Linked DNA regions of Homo sapiens. The protein of the gene in region 1 interacts with the protein of each later gene in a biochemical or structural test. Each region holds a gene or a part of one and is shown on either strand. Other genes may lie near its edges.

The links. Proteins that work in one complex are often made in the same cells at the same time.
Region 2: of the proteins of AMER1 (region 1) and SRPK2, one has a biochemical effect on the other in vitro, tested with the Homo sapiens proteins (one large-scale study listed by BioGRID).

Annotation. Positions count from the first base shown.
Region 1 is NC_000023.11:64,188,709-64,192,208, forward strand, and holds part of AMER1 (APC membrane recruitment protein 1), read right to left. Parts: coding exon 1,171-3,500; 3' UTR 1-1,170. UniProt on the Homo sapiens protein: Regulator of the canonical Wnt signaling pathway.
Region 2 is NC_000007.14:105,130,422-105,133,921, reverse strand, and holds part of SRPK2 (SRSF protein kinase 2), read left to right. Parts: exon of another isoform or gene 1-817; coding exon 818-918; exon of another isoform or gene 919-1,023; coding exon 1,024-1,131; exon of another isoform or gene 1,132-2,155; intron 2,156-3,500. UniProt on the Homo sapiens protein: Serine/arginine-rich protein-specific kinase which specifically phosphorylates its substrates at serine residues located in regions rich in arginine/serine dipeptides, known as RS domains and is involved in the phosphorylation of SR splicing factors and the regulation of splicing.

The DNA.
Region 1 (3,500 bases):
CTGAGATACCTTAAGCTCTGCATGGTCTGAAATCCCCTTTCTTGCTGGCTGTGATAAATGGACCCTCATTTTCTATCTTTCCCCTACACTCCACAAAAACCCCAGCCCCTATAGTCAAGCCTAATTTAGGTTGCTTCTCTTCCCTTATCTCAATTAAAAGACCGTGTTCCTTGTGATGAGATTATGAAAATTTCCTTTAGAGGAAAAAAGAACAAAAATTCAAAAGCATCTGCAACTCAGGTAGTCACAAGCTTAAAAGAAGGAAAAAAAATCCTATCATTCCGGAGCTCAACACTCTATGGCAGTGTCCACAACAGAACCTTGTTTTGTCTTCTGTTTGCAAATGGATGAATTTTATCACTCCATCAAGGGGATTAGCATTTTTGTCTTTAACCCAAGCTATGGCAGGACAGTTAAAAGGCCCCCATCTGGTCATGATGCCAAAGTCCACAGCGATAGGCTGTGAGACACACGCTACTTGATCCTCTCTAAGGACAGCTAGCTGGGATGAATAGCTTATAGTCATCTGATATAATGATGGCAGCTATGCCAGGCCAAAAGGAATAGGGGTGGGGAGGATCTGTACCATAATTTCACATTGCTAATAGCAAATAAGCCCCACTTCCCCAAGCGGGAGGCAATGCAGACTTGGCTGCTAATCAGTGGTTCATCATTCATTGGGGGAAAGGGGCAGGGGGCACTAAAGGTTTAGCCTGTGTCAAGGATGCATGCTATATATGTGTGTGCATGTGTGTTTGTGTGTGTGTGTGTATGTATGTGTGTGTGTGTGTGTGTGTGTGTGTGTGTATATATATATATATATATATATATATATATATATATATATATAATCACTAACTTGGCAACTGGAATAGGCACAAAATTACAGCATCCCAAACCCAGCGTGGGTCACAAGAAGAAACCTCGAAAGCAAAAACTGGAGTGCAGTAGCAGCAGCAGCCTCCCTGGGCAGATGCACTTGAGTTGAACGTGGCCATAGATGGCAGAAGAGGCAAGTGGGAAAACCAAGGTGAAAACTCACAGGAGTTTTCCTTGGCCCAAAGGGTTTTCAAGTTAAACAACAACCCCCACCCCCCCACCCTTCTGCCCAACCCCTGATCCCCATTCACATGCTCAGGCCCCGTGTCCCTACTCCAGAATTGATAATAACTACTTGGCTAGGTTTCCATTCATGGCAGTGGAGGAGTAGCTGGTGGCAAGAGAGGCACCTTGCTCAGCCCTCTCCTTTGACAGGTCAAGGCTGGAAGGCCCATAGTGAGTGGGCTGAGGCTGGGGGTGCTCAGGCCGGACCCTGGGCAGCTGAGGAATGCCATGGGTGATGCCCACAGGCTTGGCCTGTGGTAGAGGGCTGGGGCTGAAGCCTCCAGAACTGGAAGAGCAACTGGGCTCATCAACAGGCAGCAGCACATCTCGAGGCCTGGCCCTCATGCTCTGGGAGGCCTGTGGCTGGAGGTTATAGCAAGGGCCCATGGGCAGGTGTAGGTGTGAGGGACGAGCTAGTTGAGGCCCAGATTCCCCAGGTGCCCTTGACTCTGGCACTGATAGTGATATTGACATGGTCATAGGAGGTATGCAACAGGTTGCCTGCCTATATGGAGACTGGCTGGAAGGCCTGTCCAACTGGTTGGGGCTTATCCAGGCAGGACCTGGCCCCACTGGAAGAGGACAGGGAGCCCAAGCAGGCCAATCATAGGCCCCTGGGGGTTCAGTATAGAGGGAAAGGGGACTGTCTCGGCTCCATTCTCCTTCTTCCTCCTCTTCGTCCTCCTCATCTGAATCTTCCTGCTGGGCCTGCAGCTCATCAGACTCGAGGTAGCCCTGGACCAAGTGGGAATTGGAGAGCTCCATCTCCAGGGTCTCTGCAGTGTCGAGAGAGCGGCTTCTCCTGTTGAGGGCCATAGCAGCAGGTGGAGGTCGAGGGTGCAGGCCAGGCAGTCCCAAGTATCGAGGGAGGCTGCTCACACCCCAGGGCAGGCCTTGGTAGAATCGACTATGGTAGTTGTTGAAGGCATGTTTGTGATAGTAGCCCAGCTCAAAGGCTTCCAAGGAGGCTGCAAGATCTTCATCATTGTGGAACTCAGGATTCTCTTCACACTTGCCTTCCCCATCCCGTTCCACATCAGCGATGTCAAAGGTCACCATGGGAGGCAGCTCAGGGAGGTTTTGAGTGAAAGATGAGTCAGAGTCAGAGCTGCAGGACATGCTGGAAAAGAGGTTCCCATTGCTGGTGAACTCTACCAGGGCCTGTGAGAAACTCACAGTGGCATTCCCTTCCTTCTCAACCTCCTCTTCCTCTGGATCTTCAGGGGGTGAATAAGTAGGGTAGGCCCTCCTGGGAGATCCTCCAAAATTTGCTTCTTGCATGTCTGGCTCAAACATGGCATCACTCTGGAAGAGCTGCATCAGGCAGGTACTTTGATCTTTCTTGGAGCAGGTTCCTTCATAACGCTTCTCCAGAGGACGGAAGTCCCTCCAGTCTGGCTCGCTGCTTGCAGTGGTGGGGAAAGCTGAGGTAATTCCCCGGTGGGAAATCTGAGAGGTCCCTGATACCCCTGCTGCCAGGCCCATCACTGATGGGCCTAAGGGCCTCATCTGATACTCTAAGACGGGCTTCTCCTGCCGGGCCTGGGTCTCTCGGACTTGAGTCTCTCTACAACGAACCTCTCGGGCCTGGGCTTCTCGGGTTCTGGCCTCCCTGCCATGAGCTTCCCAAGTGTGGGCCTCCCTGGCATAGGCTTCCCTGCCATAAGCCTCTCGAGTATAGGCCTCCCTGGCGTGGGCCTCCCTGGCATGAGCTTCTCGGGCACGTGCCTCCTGGGCCTCAAGCTGCTCCCGCCGAAGCTCCCAATACAACAACTGTTTCTGGATGGTCACTAGCCGTTCTTCCTCTGTCTCCATTGCCCCAGGTGGCCGGGAGGACAAAAAGGGCTCAAAGTTTAAGAAGGGGTCAAACATCTCAGAGCTTCGACCATGGAGGTCATAAAGGCAGTCATCTCCAGGTGGAGAGTTCTCAAGGCTGTCATCTGGCTCATAGAACTCATATAGGGCATCTCCACTGTAGCTGTCTCGGGGTAGACAATCCCTGCGGACAAGCCCCAGGGCCTCACCTGAATCATCCTCAAATCCAGGTGTGGTGGAGTCATAATAACCTTCATCACTATTGGGGGCGGATTCTTGCTGGTCACTCTGAGGAGTCAAAAGTTCCCCAGGGGCTAGGCCAGGATAAGACCTAACTGGGTCAAGGAGCATGTAGCCGTGGTGGCCTGGGGATGTGGTGGGATGGTAGCCCAGGTTCATATTGGGCCGTGGATACATTTGGGCAGTTTCCCACAGATATTCTAAGTCATCATCTTCTTCCTCCTCCTTAACCTCCTCTTCTTCCTCCTCTAATTCCACCTCTTCTTCCTCTTCTTCCTCCTCGTCATCATCATCTGGCAAGGCCATCTCCTCCCCACCTCCTTGGTAGGTCACCAGGCAGG
Region 2 (3,500 bases), on another chromosome or scaffold:
GATCTGAACTTGTTTGAGAAGATCTGGCCCCAGAATCTCTGGGAAGCTGGCCCTATACCTGCCTTTGAGATTCCCTGGAGTCATCCTGGAATTTAGAATGACTGCTCATGTACATGACAAGTTCATGACTGACCTCAGAGGTTGCCTTTATGGCCCAGGCCATCTCAGGAGACCTCTGTCTGGGACCTTCCTTGTCTAAAACAAAACCAGAATAGTTTAGTCCCTGCCTTTAATCTGTGTTTGTTAATCAACAGTCATCTACCCCTTGAGATCTGTGTGTGCTCAGCCCAAGCAGTGGGAACTGTAGGGGATGATGTGGGTGTGAGGTGTCGGTGCCAGGGACCCTGATGTCTTGTGGCGTCCAAGGAACTGTGTGTCACTGAGAGTGATCGGCCCCCACAGCAGTGTTCTTTCTACCTTCATGTTCCTTGTAATAATGCATCAGCAAGCTCGATCTGGGCCGTGAAGGGATGGATTGACACCATGAAGAGCCGCCACAAAGCTGCAGACAGGGGGACAGCAAGGCTGGCTTGTTCTAGGGCTGACCTGGACCCGAAGAAACTGGGGATAAAAAGAGAAAGGTCAAGGCAGTGCCCTTGGCGTCCTGTGGGCAGCCCAGTTTGCTCTTTTCTGGAGTATTTTCCAGAGGTGGAGAACAAGCAATTTTAGTTCTGTCAAGTTTAATTTACAGTATTCCAGGCCTAAGTGATCATTCCACTACTCTTGAGGAAAGGAGACTGACCCTGGCAAACACTGTGCTCACACATGCAAACCACCTATCCCGATCACTAACTGTCCTGCTGTTTGCTCATGCCAGCAAAAACCCGGGCAGCTGACTTGTTGGTGAATCCCCTGGATCCGCGGAATGCAGATAAAATTAGAGTAAAAATTGCTGACCTGGGAAATGCTTGTTGGGTGGTAAGTAGAGTTTTCTTTCTAAAACCTTTGGTCTTGATTCTGTGTGCGAAGACACTTTTTGAATGTCTGTGTTGCTCCGTGGTAATGCAGCCTGTTCCCTTCCAGCATAAACACTTCACGGAAGACATCCAGACGCGTCAGTACCGCTCCATAGAGGTTTTAATAGGAGCGGGGTACAGCACCCCTGCGGACATCTGGAGCACGGCGTGTATGGTAAGGACGGCTGTGCCCTTTGCTGCCATGGGAATTGGCTCGTTCCTTTCACACTCTGGATGGGGCTGAGTCTCTCTGAGGCATGCGACCTCAGTTTTTCTGACTGTAAGGGTCATCCACCGTGGGCTGGGTGAGGGGAAGGTTGCTGCCGCAGGCATCTTAAGAAGTGGAAGGATCCTCCTCAGGCGGGCCCTGGGTGTTTGGTGTGGTTGTGGGCTTGTGAGAGAGACATGGTCTCTTCTTAAGGCCCTGCACAGCCCACAGCCCCATGAATCAGACTCAGTTGTTGTGACACAGTGACTTCACTTGTGGTCCCTGAAAATGTGCAGGGTATAGGGAGCTTTTCCCTTCACTCACACTGTGGAGGAAGATGAGGTAGCATCTCCAGGGGAAGACTGCCTAAGGCGGGCAGGTGGGAGCCCCTCCAGGTAAGCCTCTGCCTGGTCAACCAGACATGCAGGGTTCCTCACCTTTCCAGACTGGAAGGGATTTCCCCAGATGCCAATGCATAATCTCTCTTCCCTTATAAAGCAAGAGCTAGCAGATATTCTGGCTTATTCTAGGATGTCTAGCCTCTTCTGAAACAGTGGCAGCAACGCCCACTCCCTCTGACAGAGTCTGTTCCCAGAGTGGTTGAGATGACGGCTTCCACAGGGCGGCAGAAGCCTCTTCTTCTATCTGTCAGGCCTGTTTTGCTGCTGGTTTTGTGCTGCACAGTTGCATTGTCTGTAAACTCCCCTGGCCCTGCCTGGCATCGTTTGGTCATTGACCCTGAACCTGTGAGTTGGTGAACACAAAGGGCCCTGCATTTGCGAGCCAGTTCCTGGTTCTCTTCCTCTGCCCTGTTTCCTGGCCCATTCAGCAGCTTTTTCTCAGTGGTATTTACTTAGGCGTTCCGTGTTGGGAAAGGTGGGTTGCTTGCTGTTGGGTTTCATGCTTTTCCTATTCCATACTGCTTTTTATCCATATTCTTCCAATATTTAAAAGAAAAGATTGTGTGCAAGGCTTAGCATTTTTCTTCTCACTGAAAAAAGGAATGCAGAATAAATATATTAATTTTCTGTTATTCAGAGGTTAATTTAACAATTTTCTTGAATTTACTGTGTTTTACCTCCTCTAATGCTCAAGTAAAAGCATTGTTGAGCAGATAGTGCCAGCTGATAGGAGAAAAAGAGGGTGCTTTCTGTCTTTCAGCTTTGACTCAGCATGATCTGAGTCAGCACATGGCCAGATAGGTCCTGAAACACCAGGCCTTTCTATTCCCTCGTTGCTCTTAAGGATAATACCAGACAATAACGTTTAAATTATTAAAGGTATTAAAGTTCTTCCATATCAAAAACCAAGTCCCTGCCTTAGCTAGGTATAGAAAAGAACGGTTAAAAGAACCGGTGGCCAATGATGGTCACTTTGAATTTAGAGAGTGCTGTGTGGAGAGGCATTTGACCCTCTCTGTGTGACCCCAGCAGGCAGACTGAGACGTGGGAGTTAGTGTAACGGGAGCTGCGGAGACACTGAGTGGGAGTCGGGGAGCAGGGGCCATTTCAGGATGTGGGGAGGTTAGACCACAATGGCCACTAGCAGCAGGGCTGCCCCGAATTAGGCGCTAAGTACTCTTTGAACTCTGAAATGCTGTGCTTCTAATTTGGGGTATTAAGTTTGGTGATATAACCAGAAAAATAGGACGCAGTCACGGATGTAGTGGGTTAATGGAGCTTTCAGCACAATTTTATACCAGGTTATCTGACCTGCCTTCCATTAGATGAACGTTTGTCCCTCCATACAATTTCCCTGTCCTGCTTACTTCTTGAAATGCTATTGCTGTGAACAGTGGCATAAATATCAATAACAGATTCCCAAGGAAAAGCCTTTCTGTCTTCTCACCTGCCCCCTTCCCAAGAATTAAGCATAAGCTCCCTCAGTGCTGTCAGGACGGCTTATGAGGTTTGCTTTTTCAGTTGGTTGTCATAAGGGAGGTTTTTTTTTTTTTGGAAAGGGGCAGGCCCTCATTCACTGCTTGCCCCACCCCCCAAAAGTCATGGCTTTAGAGGTTTCTTTTGTTCCTCCTAGAGAACCTAGGAGCAATGAGGCAGTTTTTCTTACCTCATCGTTCTGTTGTAGTGTAAAAATAGGACATTTAATATATTAAATTTGACCTCATAATACCAAGCTGTCATAAGGCCACAGATGGTTCTTGGTGGTAAAGCCTATATATAGTCTTTGAGGGTTTTGTTTGTTTGTTTGGAGACAAGGTCTTGCTCTGTTCCCCAAGCTGAAGTGCAGTGGCAGGACTATAGTTCACTGCAGACTCCACTTCCCAAGCTCAAGTGATCCTCCCACCTCAGCCTCTGGTGTAGCTGGGACTACAGGCA